2 linked regions of the Homo sapiens genome follow. The protein of the gene in region 1 interacts with the protein of each later gene in a pairwise test. Each region holds a gene or a part of one and is shown in the gene's direction. Other genes may lie near its edges. The genes, in order: SOX8 and MMP1.

Evidence for each region.
Region 2: the proteins of SOX8 (region 1) and MMP1 interact in a two-hybrid assay, tested with the Homo sapiens proteins (one large-scale study listed by BioGRID and IntAct).

The regions. Positions count from the first base shown.
Region 1 is NC_000016.10:984,713-987,746, forward strand, and holds the end of SOX8 (transcription factor SOX-8), read left to right. Parts: coding exon 1-674; 3' UTR 675-2,267; downstream 2,268-3,034. UniProt on the Homo sapiens protein: Transcription factor that may play a role in central nervous system, limb and facial development. May be involved in male sex determination. Binds the consensus motif 5'-[AT][AT]CAA[AT]G-3'.
Region 2 is NC_000011.10:102,791,966-102,795,160, reverse strand, and holds part of MMP1 (interstitial collagenase isoform 1 preproprotein), read left to right. Parts: exon of another isoform or gene 1-13; intron 14-1,899; exon of another isoform or gene 1,900-2,016; intron 2,017-2,422; coding exon 2,423-2,556; intron 2,557-3,195. UniProt on the Homo sapiens protein: Cleaves collagens of types I, II, and III at one site in the helical domain. Also cleaves collagens of types VII and X.

The DNA.
Region 1 (3,034 bases):
GGCCGCCCACCCCGCCCACCACCCCCAAGACGGAGCTGCAGCAGGCGGGCGCCAAGCCGGAGCTGAAGCTGGAGGGACGCCGGCCGGTGGACAGCGGGCGCCAGAACATCGACTTCAGCAACGTGGACATCTCGGAGCTCAGCAGCGAGGTCATGGGCACCATGGACGCCTTCGACGTCCACGAGTTCGACCAGTACCTGCCCCTGGGCGGCCCCGCCCCACCCGAGCCGGGCCAGGCCTATGGGGGCGCCTACTTCCACGCCGGGGCGTCCCCCGTGTGGGCCCACAAGAGTGCCCCGTCGGCCTCCGCGTCGCCCACCGAGACGGGTCCCCCACGGCCGCACATCAAGACGGAGCAGCCGAGCCCCGGCCACTACGGCGACCAGCCCCGAGGCTCGCCCGACTACGGTTCCTGCAGCGGCCAGTCCAGCGCCACCCCGGCCGCCCCCGCCGGCCCCTTCGCCGGCTCACAGGGCGACTATGGCGACCTGCAGGCCTCCAGCTACTATGGTGCCTACCCTGGCTACGCACCCGGCCTCTACCAGTACCCCTGCTTCCACTCGCCGCGCCGGCCCTACGCCTCACCCCTGCTCAACGGCCTGGCCCTGCCGCCCGCCCACAGCCCCACCAGTCACTGGGACCAGCCGGTGTACACCACCCTGACCAGGCCCTGAGGGCCCAGCCGCGGGGAGGGACTCGCAGGCGTCAGGGGGCAGCCTTGTCCCGGCCCAGTGTGTGTGACCAGGGCGGGAGGGGCCCCAGTGGCTGAGCTCCAAGTGCCTGCTGAAGTCTGCAGGGAAACACGCTTGCTGCCCGTGGCCCTCGGCCTCCAGATGGCCACACCTCTGCCGACGACGGACCAGCTCCCTCTCCCTTCTATCTTTCTTTTTGAGGTGGTGGGATTATTCCACAAAGAAGGGCTGCCGTTTGGTCCCTCTTCCGTGAGGACTGGCGGCACCAGCACCTTCGCTTTGCATCTCGGTAGAGGAGAAACGGCAGCACAGCCCAAGGACCAAAGGAGGGGGTGGCAGGGGCCTTGCAGGGCGCTGTGAGGTCCAGGCCGGTCTTGGCGCCGAGAGCCCCTGCACTCAAGGCCACATTCCCTCGACAACGGCTGCACGGGCTGTCCGGGATCCGGGGTGTCTGTCCGCAGACTGGGATGAGTCTACTCGAGCATCTCCGGGACCTGCCTGTCAGATCTGAGGTGTCTCCTTGCTGGCAGAGTGCGCTCACGCGAGGGCTGGCTGTGATGAACACATCTCTCTTTTATTTTTATGTTTTTGATAATTTTTATTTTTGAAGCTTAAATGTGTTTCTTCTGAAAGCTGTTAAAGATGTATTTATGTTCTGTGTTATTTTATCTTTAATTAATGAGGTAATTCGGGCAAAGAGTAGAATTTAAGACAAAACGGAAGCTGGGAAGCTTCCCTTGAGGGCAGGCAGGAGGTGGAGTTGCAGCTGTTGGCCGGCATCACGTTGCTCGTTGCTCGGCTTATGGGAGGCCGCCCTGGAGGGCCCGGAGGTCCCAAGGTCCCTGGGAGGACTGGGCCCCTCATGCCTCGAGCTTGGCAACCGAAAACCCGAGGGAGGAGAAGGGACCTGCCTTGTGACATCTCTGATCAGGTTGGGGTGCCCCAGCACCCAGTACCAGTTTGGGGTTTGGGAAGCAGGACTCCGTCCCTGTCCCCGACTGTGCCACGTGGTAGGACACATAGGACACAGGAATTCCTGGGTCCTTGCCCATGACTGTGCCATGTGGTAGGACACAGGACACAGGAATTCCTGGAAAGTGGTGGCTTCAGAAGTGATCTTGGCTCGCAGGCACCAGTGCCACCTACCAAGCTGTGAAACTAAACCTTCTCCACTAAACGTCGTTAGGGCCTCAGTTCTAGACGAGTCATACCTGATTCACCTGCACTGCTTCCCCTGTGTGCTGAGCATAGAGCATACAATAGCGCCTACTTCACGGAAACTTGTGCCTTTAAACTTTGTAAACTTAAACACAGCCGAGAAGTTGCTTCTTTGTACTTTTTCTACTTTTCCTACTTTTTTGTAGAAAAAAAAGATAATGCCTCTGCTTCTATTTCTCTGGGGGTGGGGGTGGGGGCCGGGAGCCGTCGCAGACCCGTTTCATGCAGCGTCTCCCTTGGCACCGCGTTCGGAGGACGCACCCTCACTCCCCTGCTGCCTTCACTCCTTTCTGACCAAGCAACGCTAACTTTTGTACAGATCGATTTGATAAAATTAAACAAAGTGCTTTTTATGGACGTGGGCTGCATTTTGTGTGTTGCTTTGTGTGAGCCTGGGGCTCCCGGGGTAAAGATGTCCGGCAAAGGCAGGATCAGGCCGTGCCACGCGGCCGCCGGCCTCACCCCAGTGCCCTCCACGCTGGGCGGCAAGGAGGGCGGCCGCGAGCCCACCCGGACCCCCGAGCGGCAGGGGCAGCCCGTCGTGCCACCAGGCGTCAGCAGGCTTCAGTCAGAATGGAAACAGCCATGCCCTTCGCGAATCCCGTCGCGGCCTCTGGGAACCGAGCTCCTCGTCTTCCTTCCTGGAGGGCCTCCTTGGTAGGCAAAATGGGTCTGGACGGGCCCGATTCGGGGCTGTGTTTTTCCTCCCAGGCGAATCCCAGAGCTGGTTTCTGGGTGGCTGTGCAATGCCAGGAAGCCGACGGCATCTTTCGGGCCTTGGCATGGAGCCAGGCTGGGAGCGGATGAAAGCGCCCCGCAGGAGCCGGCAGAGCTGTCTGGTTGGAGGAAAGTTTCTAGGGAGAAAATGGCTGTGGGAGTGACAGCCAGTGAGGGGCAGCCGGTCCCTTTGCCAGGTCTCCCGGGCACCTGAGGCTGGTGCGGGGGCGTCTCGGGGCTGGGGGCCACCCCTGGGGTGCAGACACCCGGCTTCTCAAGGCATCTTGGTCGGGGGTGGCAGAGGATGCACTGCTCACAGGAACCCAAATTCGAAAGACAGCCGCATCTACAATTTTAACACGGTGGCCTGGGTAGGGGGCCACCCACCCCGTCTCCTTGCCCGCCTG
Region 2 (3,195 bases), on another chromosome or scaffold:
TCTTCTTTGTGATCTGCATTTGTAATAATAACAACATTCACCACTATGATTAACTATTATGCTTCACATGTTACTTATTTCATGCTGATTTACATCTATAATCACATGGTAGCAACCACATGCATTTGTGCAACATAATGTACTTGTAACAACTTTGTTTTTCTACATGTATTAGGTCAACTGATTCTCAGAAAATATAGTTGATTTTGAAAATCAGTATGTATGATCTTTTTTTACAGATTAGCAAAGTAAGTCAGAGAGAAGGAAAGAGATCTTTTGGGGGCATAGAGCTCATTGGTAGCAGAGCAGTTATTGGTCTTCTGTTCCCTATTTCAGGTCTCTTTTCATTATGCCACTCTTTATGGTGATAAGTATCATTGGACTTTCTTAGGAGAAAGTGGTCCTTTCCATAGCAACATCTCACTGATGAGGGTTGCATAGCCATCCTTTAATTATCTCCCCTGCCATCCTGGAAAAATGGCCCTCCCAAAGCCTATTAACTTGAAGGGTCTCTGTTGCCCCCTGGAGGCCCAGAGAAGAAGAGAAGAGAGGGCACCAATGCTGGGAAAGTCCCCAAGAACTGATGAAATCCCTCCTGGGACAGATAGGGGCAGCCACAACATGGTGCTTCCCTCTTCAAAGAAGAATCCTAGAACTCCCTCTGCAGCATGTGGACTCAAAAAGTTGGGGTCATCTCACATGCAAGGAGGAGGCCTGCTCTCTGTACCATAGTGATTCCTAAAGGATCAGGCAAAATAATAACACACTCTTTTGGTGTGTTATTGCACACCGCATTTGGTGAATGATGCAGTCCACAGAAAGATCAACACATAGAAATTCAGGGTGGCCTGAAAGGCTCATTCTCTGCAGCCTCTCAAGTGCTGTGGCACTGTTTTACTACTCTGTAGTCGCATCTCTCCTAGAATTCAGGGCACTGGCTCATAATTCTTTCTGCCCTCTCTTTACTTTTTAAGTGTAAAAGATAAGGCTGGAGGTAAACTATACAGGGTGTGGTTCAATGCTGGGACAAGTTAAGAAAACACATGGTTTTAAAGGAAACCTCTCAGTACAACAGGACACACCTATCAAACCAAATATTACTAGATGGAACAGGACCAATTTGAGGATTTGCCAGAATTGAAAGGACACAGAGATCATTTAAATGTCGCCATGTCGAGGAGACATGAAAGGCTAGAGATAGAGATAGTAACTGATTTGCCTAAGGCATCACAGCCAGGCAGAGGAAGGACTGGACCTAGAAGTCAGGTTTCCGACAGCCAAGGCCGTAGGCTTCCCTGTGGCCTGGAATCTGGAGCTCTTCTGTGTCAGCCCACATAACAGTCTATGCTGTGCTGTTACCCTAGTCCCTATTAAGCTCTATAATCCACTTTGTGTAAATACTACTAACCAAGGGACAACAAAGGGATTGGCTGCCAGAGCGGAGTTTAAAAATCAACCTTAGCCTCTTACCAGCTGGGTGGCCTTAGACACCTCCCTTAGTCTCCCCAACCTCAATTTCTCATCCTCAAATACTCTCTTGTAGTGTCCTTGTGATAAGGTCTGATGTAAGGAATGGGCCTGGTGTGTTGTAAGTAATCACTAAATAATAGGATATTAGAGTCATGGTCCAGTTGGTAATGTGCACAGCCGATCCCTAATGGCTCACCAAAGCTGACTGTTAAATTTTGAAGAATTTTGCAAGCTAGCTGTGAACCATAGCCATTATTAAAAATTAAATTATAGGCCAGGTGCAGTGGCTCACACTTGTAATCGCAGCACTTTGGGAGGCGGAGGCGGGGGAATCATTTGAGATCAGGAGTTCAAGACCAGCCTGGCCAATATGGTGAAACCCTGTCTCTACTAAAAGTACAAAAATTAGCTGGGCGTGTTGGCCTGTACCTGTAATCCCAGCTACTCAGGAGGCTGAGGCAGGAGAATCCTTGAATCTGGGAGGCAGAGGTTGCTCTGAGCCAAGATTGTACCACTACACTCCAGCCTGGGTGAGAGAGTGAGACTCTGTCTCAAAAAAGTAAATAAATAAAAAAGAGATAAAACTTAAATTATATAAACAAAATTAAATTACATTAAAATAAAAGGTAATAAAAATAATAAAAATTCATCAGTTTGTCATAATTTTTACTGCATTTTTCTACTTATTTATGTTCTTAAAGTTACTTATGCCTATTTTATTTGTATGCTATACAATGGTGCTCCACTGAGACTCTTGAAATTCATCATAATGGGAGTATTTCAAGCTAGTGAAATCAGCAAATGCTATAAACCAACCCTTCTTTGGAGAGCTGAATGTTATACATTTACCAGCACACCACTAGTGCCAGCAACAAGAAGGAGCTGGAGCTGGATATCTGCCAGAGATTACCAGAAATTAGATGGAAACTTTTCTTGCTTTTTTTCTAATCAGATTCTACATGCGCACAAATCCCTTCTACCCGGAAGTTGAGCTCAATTTCATTTCTGTTTTCTGGCCACAACTGCCAAATGGGCTTGAAGCTGCTTACGAATTTGCCGACAGAGATGAAGTCCGGTTTTTCAAAGGTAATCTTTCTAATTATTTTTCACTGCTTTAATAAATCAATTTTTCATTCCCTTTGGGGCTGAGATATAAGGTTACTAGCTACATTCTCTCCAGGGACTTTTGAAAATCTCAGTCTCACCAACCAAATCAATGAAAGTCCATCAACTTAACTAAACGGTGCGTAGCGCATTTTGGAGTCATTTTAAACAAAAGGCAAATGACTGGAGATAGAACGTTCTGGCCTTTTTAATGAATCTAGATTTACAAAAATATTTTCTGCACAAACTATGTATTTAAAACCCCCTCCATATTCCTGGGAGTACTCAAAGTAAAACTCGAGACACTATGCCACGCACCAATATTTTTGCAAACGTGTGTTTAACGTAGTACAATGAGTAAGACATTTGACTCAGCCATACACTCAAGGCAAAGAATTAAATGCAGGTCAGATGGGCCAAACGCTTTGAAACAGGATTTTTAGCCTTTAAATTATGAAATTAAATGGATGTTAGAGACAGAAAGTTTCAAATTCCTTTTTCATGAGGGGTAAATAGCACGTGTGTACAGTAACAGAAATCTTGGCTTTAGTATATGAGACCAGCTTTATGTGATGAGGGGCTTACTGAGTATAAACACGGAATCTGGACACAGCATTAATT